2 linked regions of the Homo sapiens genome follow. The protein of the gene in region 1 purifies or fractionates together with the protein of each later gene. This does not show direct contact. Each region holds a gene or a part of one and is shown on either strand. Other genes may lie near its edges.

Region 1 (5,421 bases):
TCTGTAACAGTGCTGATTTTATAAGCACACCTTCTAGAAGCCACTTAGAGACTGCTCCATTGGAGACACTAATGTTCCTATTTTTCTCTACTTTTCCCAGCTCTGTGTTTGAAAAACTGGCCTTTCATTCTTATGACTTATAGTAAAATTGTCATCAGGTCAGTGTGTGCCTGTCTCCTGTTTTGTAGCATTTTGAGTTTTCCAAATCATCCTTATATCTGTAATGCTTAAAGAGGAGTGGAAGGTAGAAGGGTGGGGAGTTGTTTAATCCGGAAGGGGCCCTCTGGGCCTGGATATGGAACTACAGCTCCCTTATGCTGGTGGTTTGCAATTGAGCTACAGTACTGCTGAGTGGCGGAGCAAGAGGCTATTTATAACCCTGAGAATTTTGCAATGTTACTGAATTCCTTTGACCTAATTTCTACTTCCTTTCTAGAATGAAAATGAAGGGAGTAAGCAAACACGTGCTGGAAGGGTTCCCTATAAGGAGATCCTTTATCCTGGGAATATTATCTGGAGAACAGAATTATTTCTAGTCTCCTATCTCCTGATGTTTCTTTTCGATAGGGAGAAAAGCAGAGGGAGGTTTTCCTCTTTCTTTCAACTAGAGTTAGGGGTGCTAACCCTGATTTTTCAGTAAGACTTATTCTAATGTTTGATATGAAAACAACAGTTTTTTATTTTATTTTTATTTTTTAATAGAGACAGGATCTCACTTTGTCACCCAGGCTAGAGTTCAGTGACATGATCATAGTTCACTGCAGCCTCGAACTCCTGGGCTCAAGCAACTCTCCTGCCTCAGCCTCCTGAGTAGCTAGGGACTACAGGCACACGCCACCATGCCCAGCTAATTTTTATTTTTTGTAGAGAAATGTCTCGAACTCCTGGCCTGAAGTGATCCTCCTGCCTTGACCTCCCAAAGCATTGGGATTACAGGTGTGAGCCACTGCGCCCAGCCAAAACAAACTGTTAAACAATGGAAATACTGTGTAGTTAGAGGGTATTGGGACGCAGAGGGAACACCAGACAGCCTGCACAGTTCATGCCTGTCCCTGTCTGTTTGGAGCCAGCCTGGTTCACAGGAGTGGAAGAAATCAGAGCCATTGGGTTTAAGCAGACACAGGTGCTTACTGAGCCTTCACTGGACACCAAGTGCTGTGCTAGGTTATGAGACTGCAGAGTTATACCTGTTCTGGAGGAGGAGCTAGTGGAGATGTGTAAATATGTAACTGTAATAGAGTATGACAAAATCGTACTCATTAACGGAAGTATGAACAGGATGCTGTGAGAACACAGAGGCCCCTGTCCTATTTACTTTTGCCAGGGAAAGTAGAGAAAGCTAAGACTAGTACAAGGAGGAGGTAACATCCGAACTAGGCTCTGATGCTTGAATAGGAGCTCTTCTGACAGTCAGTAGGAGGAAGAGAATGTGCAAAGGTACAGAAGAATTGAAAGAACATGGCCTGCCTTATAGAAATAGCCCGTAGTCCAGGATGGCTAGATTGTAAAGGACCAAATAGCACACGAGGGAGTGTGGCCCACCTGTAGACAGTGGAGAGCTGTCTTCTGTTACAATGGTGAGTTCTTGCTGTGAAGGTTTCTTAGCCTCAGTGTGCTTTGGTTTCAGATACACAAACCAGAAATCTCCACAAAGCACCTGCTGCGGGTCAGGTGCAGAGCCACCTGCTTTCTCATGGCTTTCCAGCAACACCAGACAACCTGGTATCAAATTCTGGCTGTGCCACTTGCTAGCTATGTGACACTGAGCCTTCTACTTAACTCCTCTGTGCCTCCATTTTCTTATCTCTAAGGTGGGGATAATAACATACCACACAGCATTGCTGTGTGGATTAAATGAATTAATATATGTAAAGCCCTTAAAATAGTGCCTTAGCATTATGTAATTGCTAGCTAATGTCATCATCTAAGGAAGTATTATATAGAGCGATGAGAACTCGCTTTGGAGTCCTAAGACCTAGGCTTGAGACCCAGTTCTGATGTGTTGGGTTGATTTAGTTTTATTTCTTTTCCCTCCCTTCATTTTTTTTCTTTCCTTCCTTCTTTTAGGAGGGAGGTGTAGAAAGAGGTACATGGAGAACAAGTTTGTCAATCCGTCTGAACTTCAGTTGCCTTACCTGTAAGGTAGGAATGTTTTTCAGAGTTCTTATGAGCATCAACTATAATAATGATATAGAAGTGAGCAATCAACTATAAAGAGGCTACCTGGGCTGGGCACAGTGGCTCACGCCTGTAATCCCAGCACTTTGAGAGGCCGAGGCAGATGGATCACCTGAGGTCAGGAGTTCAAGACCAGCCTGGCCAACATGGTGAAACCCCGTCTCTACTAAAAATACAAAAATTAGCTGGGCGTGGTGGTGAGTATCTGTAATTCCAGCTACTCAGGAAGCTGAGGCAGGAGAATCGCTTGAACCCAGGAGACAGAGGTTGAAGTGAGCTGAAATCATGCCATTGCACTTCAGCCTAGGCGACAAGAGCAAGACTCCATCTTTTAAAAAAAATTTAAAAAAATAAAAATAAAGAGGCTACCTGTACGTTACTACTAGATATATGATTACTATGAAGTTACCATATAACCGATCTGTTTCAAACAAATCAGACTTATCTAGTGGGTAAGAGCAAACCCATGGGTTTTGCTCTCATTAATTCAGCCATTGTTAATTAAGTGCTTACCCAGTACCATCATCATATGCTAGTGATGCTGCTGTCTGCTCAGACCTCCGTTTTAGAGTTCCTGCAGAGCTTGGGGGCAGCTGTGGTCTTAGGCGTATTAGTTGCAATGAGTAGAAACATAGACTAGCTTAATTTATAGGAGTTTTATTGGCAGGATACAGTGGACTTTCAGGTACCCCGAGCATAGGAAGTAATAGCCACATAATCTGGAAAGTTAGCAGGTAATGGCTTTTCCATCTCTTTCTGATTTCTGGCCTCAGTTCATTTAGATATTTATGGATTCCTCCTGCAGAATCACTTCCTCTGAAAGGCTCTTGGTTTTTTATTCTCCATATCTTTGGCTCGTACGGATCTTTGGCTTGCCATGGTATTCGCTCTGAAGCTTACTATGATCTTACTTCTCCAGGGTCATTATCACCCAGTTCCCTTAGTCTGTGTCTTTTATTTGTTTGTATGTATGTATGTGTGTATTTATTTATGATGGAGTCTCATTCCGTCGCCCAGGCTGGAGCGTAATGGTGCAATCTGTGCTCACTGAAACCTCCGCCTCCTGGGTTCAAGCTGTCCTCCCTGCCTCAGTCTCCCGAGTAGTTGGGATTACAGGCGCCCACCATCATGCCTGGCTACTTTTTGTATTTTTACTAGAGACGGGGTTTTGCCATGTTGGCCAGGGTGGTCTCAAACTCCTGACCTCAGGCGATCCACCCACCTTGGCCTCCCAAAGTGCTGCGATTATAGACATGAGCCACCACGCCCAGCCAGTCTCTGTCTTTTAAATTCAAGAGAAAGAACTGGAATAGTTCAGCTAAAGTTGGGTATTCACTTTAGTCCCATCAGCTATGGCAGGGTTGTGGAGAGTGTCATTCAGTTCAGAGAGGCTGCCTGGGCTTTGTGGGAAGGACAGAGTCACTGAGAATGGGGGCTTATTAATATCTTTCAAATAGTTTGGTGGTTGCAAATCTCCATGCTTTAAAATGTATACGAATTTTTGAACAGCCGAGAATCATTCAGGGCTAACTTTAATAAAGAGAGAGTCAATCTAGGATATGTCATATGGGGTCAAGAGAAAATAATAGCTATAACCTAATGAGCTTTAGCTTAATCTCCAAAGACGGCGTTCAGAAAGGAGTTAAAAATCATGGGGTTTGTTTCTTAGCAGCACCATCGAAATTAAGGAAGGGTGTAACTTCATTTGGTAAGGACTTTAAAATGGGCATCCTCACTTGGATTTTTTAAATTCCACTTAAGAATCATGGACTTTTAGACTTAGAAGGCACCTGAGACATGCTTTAGTTCTACACTCACATCTTTCAATAGAAGAAAACTGAGATTTGGTTAAAGGGCCATGTATACATTGTGAAAGACCTAGGATTGGGTCCTGAGGCCTTTGGTTCTAAATCCAGTCACTTGTTTCAGCAGGGACAATTATCCCAGCCCAGTGTTCTTTCTGTTGTACCTTCTGTGCCTGCTTATTTTAAAAATAAGAAGAAGCCAAACTAAACAAATGATCTAAAAAGTCATATCGTATAGTTCCATTTATATGAAGTACAAAACCAGGCAAAACTCATGGATGATGATAAGTCAGAAATTCCCCTTTAAAGGACTGGAAGGATTGACGGGAAGAGGAAGTATGAAGTAATTTTCTAGGGTGATGAAAATGTTCAGTGTCTCGTTTTGAGTGCTGGTTACAGGGAGATGCATGTGTATATTTATATGATGTATATTTATATATACAAACATATGTACCCTTAAGCCCTCTGCATTTTATTGTATGTAAATTATATCTCAGTTTTTAAAATTGACCTCACAACCGTGCAGTCCTGTCTACTAATTGCAGCAGCTTTGCCGATAAGGATAAGGATGCATCTCTAAGCATCCAGAGATTGATGGCGCCACCCCTAGAACAAGAACTCCCTGTCTTGCTGTAACTGGAGCAGAGCATTTTCCCCAGAAATTATGCAGATAGGGCCAGTTTCTTTTCTGAGGTTTGTCGTGTGTCTAGGCACATAAAAATTACATGTGAAAAATTCTGCCATGAGCTGCAGAAGTTATGGAAGCCTTGGGGGCCATAAGGCCAACCCACTTCAATCCCTTTAGGCTGCGTTTAATTGCAGTGGACAGAAGTTGAGGCTGGCTCAAAGGAAAAGGGGAAAGCATTGGCCGAAGCCAGTCCAAGTTCTGTCAACCGTTATGACTTACTAGCTGGGTGACCTTGGGCACTTAACAAAACACTGAGCTTTAGTTGTGCCATCTTCAAATGGAGGTGATAATCCTGTTCTGCCTAATTCGTGGGGCTGCTGGGAGGACACAATAAAATAAGTGAAAGCACTTGGAAAACTAGTTCCTTTACATTGTCATGTTCTGGAAATGCTGGCTTTTTATGACAGTAGACTTCTGAAGCATCCCATTCTGACTAGGAAATGGTCATGAAAGCATCCCTCTTTCTGAGGCCGATGGGCTTGTGGGGGACAGGACTTTTACTCCTTTTCATCTAAGAGGTTTATACTTACCAGGCTGTGAGAACTGACATCTGTGTTTGGGCTGAAAAATTGATAGCATACATGCATAATAGCCTCGCGACAGCTATGCTTTGTACGCCAGGAGAGGCAGGTGGTCCCCATTAGCGAGGCATGAATTGTGGGTGAATGGCTAAACCTGGAGGATGCAGAAAGGTCTTTTTCATTAAGAGAGGGGCCTCTCCTGAACTTGTAGGCAAGGAGTGTAAATATA
Region 2 (2,192 bases), on another chromosome or scaffold:
AAGATTTCTGAGAGTAGCAGTTTATACCCAATATGATGTTTATGATTTGCCAGGAAAGGTTTTAATCCACTGACTGATATGCATTTCAAATGCAGTTACACAATGTGGGTAAGTTATTTGGAATTAACTAGTTTTTTTTTTTTTTTGAGACAGAATCTCACTCTGTCACCCAGGCTGGAGTGCAGTGGTCTGATCTTGGCTCATTGCAACATCCACCTCCCGGGTTCAAGCAAATCTTGTGCCTCAGCCTCCTGAGTTAGCTGGAACTACAGGCACGCGCCAACACACCCGGCTAATTTTTGTATTTTTAGTAGAGACAGGGTCTTGCCATGTTGCCCAGGCTTGTCTCGAACACTGACCTCAAGTGGTCCACCCACCACGACCTCCCAAAGTGCTGAGATTACAGGCGTGAACGACCACACCCAGCCTAGATTTTTAAAAAATATAATTTAGACTTGTTTCCATCTCAAATATAAACCTTTATTTAGCCAAATTTGTGAAGTTTTAAAAAGATATGTAGCATTTCTTGAAAAGATGCTCCTTATATCTAATCTTTTGCATAAATGGTTTGTATTTGTATGGAATTTGTAAGGATGGATTCCCACTGTTGAGTAATTTCTGTGATAAATGAAAAGGGAATTGAAGCTTTTCAGGTGGCTTGTAGGAACTAGAACAACCGAATTACAACTTTCCTCACACTCCTTCTGTCGCCTCCAACAACTTCTTAGGTATTTAGGAATAGAAGAAAGTCGCCTGGAGGAAGAAAAGAGAGCAGTAAACCAAGTTATTACCTCATTGTTTGAACCCTTTGTTGAGGGAAAGGAAATAATAGATGTCTTGGTTTTATTTCTATGAAGGGGAAGAATCCATTTTCTAATTCCAAATGATGAAGTTAAAAATTTTTCTGTTTAAGGAGTTGATATAATTCTGCTGGAAAAGAAAAAGTTTCCAGGCCATTGGAAATCATGCAGGGGCAGAAGCTGGTATTAGCTACTGTTCATATTTGCTTTTGGGCAGAGGAAGAGTTCATTATTTATCCTTCTTTTCCTCTGCCTTCCCACATGGCTATCCTCTTTACATTTTATTTTGTGCCTTCAATATGATAGTAAATAATAGAGCCATCAGTCAGACAGCTGTGCCTGTAGTTAGAGGGTACTCAGTACATGTAGAATGAATGAATGAGGAAATGAGTATTTCCTATGATATTATTTGCATCCCTCCTAATGGAAGAGATTAATTTATAGCAATGTTTTTCTTAACAAAATACTTTTCTAACAAAGAAAGGGGTATTTTGATGATGGTCTTGGTTTATTACTCCCTAGCTCTAGTTTGTGGACAACTTTTTATTTCTATTTATGGTTTGAAACCACTAGATTCAGGTACTTTCCATAGGTAGCTTGGGTGGTTTTTATCACCAAAGGAATTTTTGTTCTATGTCTCCAGTGCCCTGTTGGGCGTTACAGAGCTGTTAATATACACTGTTGGAGAATTTTGCTAATAGTTATGATTACATGAGAAGTTTTCACGTATTTCCTTCTAACAATTATCCTTCTTCCAATACCATGCAGGGTGTGTATTTATTGCCTTTTTCTCCCACCTGTTTTAGGACCTACCTCTAGCTTCCAGGACTGCCCTGAGGTATGAGGAAGGTGATTAGTATTTTCTTCTGTCACATTATAACCTGTGACACCCATCAATGAAACCTTGGGGCAACCTGTACTCTCTTGCTAACCGAACACAATTCTTGTCCTTGTGTGCAGGTATAGTGGAGGATTACAAGCCACCGTTCTACGATGTGGTTCCCAATGACCCAAGTTTTGAAGATATGAGGAAGGTAGTCTGTGTGGATCAACAAAGGCCAAACATACCCAACAGATGGTTCTCAGACCCGGTAAGAATGCCAGTTTCTCAGTTTTAGAGCTCTTTTCCATTGTTTGCTATTTGTTTCCCTTTGAGTTTCAACTGGTATTGCATCTGAGTGATCTGTCCCGTGGATCTGTTGTTTTCTCTTCCTATTTTATATAGAAGGGTTTAGATCTAGAAGAGTAAGTTCAGAAAAATACTCCATTCTTGAAGAAGCCATATCTCATAGGGGTTGCTAGTGAATGACAATATTTGTAAGAATTTCTGTGAATATGCAGCTTCAGGAATCGGGAGACTCATGACTACTGCTATTAGCCCTAAGACTGCAT

What was found. Proteins that work in one complex are often made in the same cells at the same time.
Region 2: the proteins of ELMO2 (region 1) and ACVR1 purify together in Homo sapiens (co-immunoprecipitation; one large-scale study listed by IntAct). This does not show direct contact.

Annotation. Positions count from the first base shown.
Region 1 is NC_000020.11:46,395,418-46,400,838, reverse strand, and holds part of ELMO2 (engulfment and cell motility protein 2), read left to right. Parts: intron 1-2,067; 5' UTR 2,068-2,142; intron 2,143-2,819; exon of another isoform or gene 2,820-5,421. UniProt on the Homo sapiens protein: Involved in cytoskeletal rearrangements required for phagocytosis of apoptotic cells and cell motility. Acts in association with DOCK1 and CRK. Was initially proposed to be required in complex with DOCK1 to activate Rac Rho small GTPases.
Region 2 is NC_000002.12:157,738,139-157,740,330, reverse strand, and holds part of ACVR1 (activin receptor type-1 precursor), read left to right. Parts: intron 1-1,760; coding exon 1,761-1,891; intron 1,892-2,192. UniProt on the Homo sapiens protein: Bone morphogenetic protein (BMP) type I receptor that is involved in a wide variety of biological processes, including bone, heart, cartilage, nervous, and reproductive system development and regulation.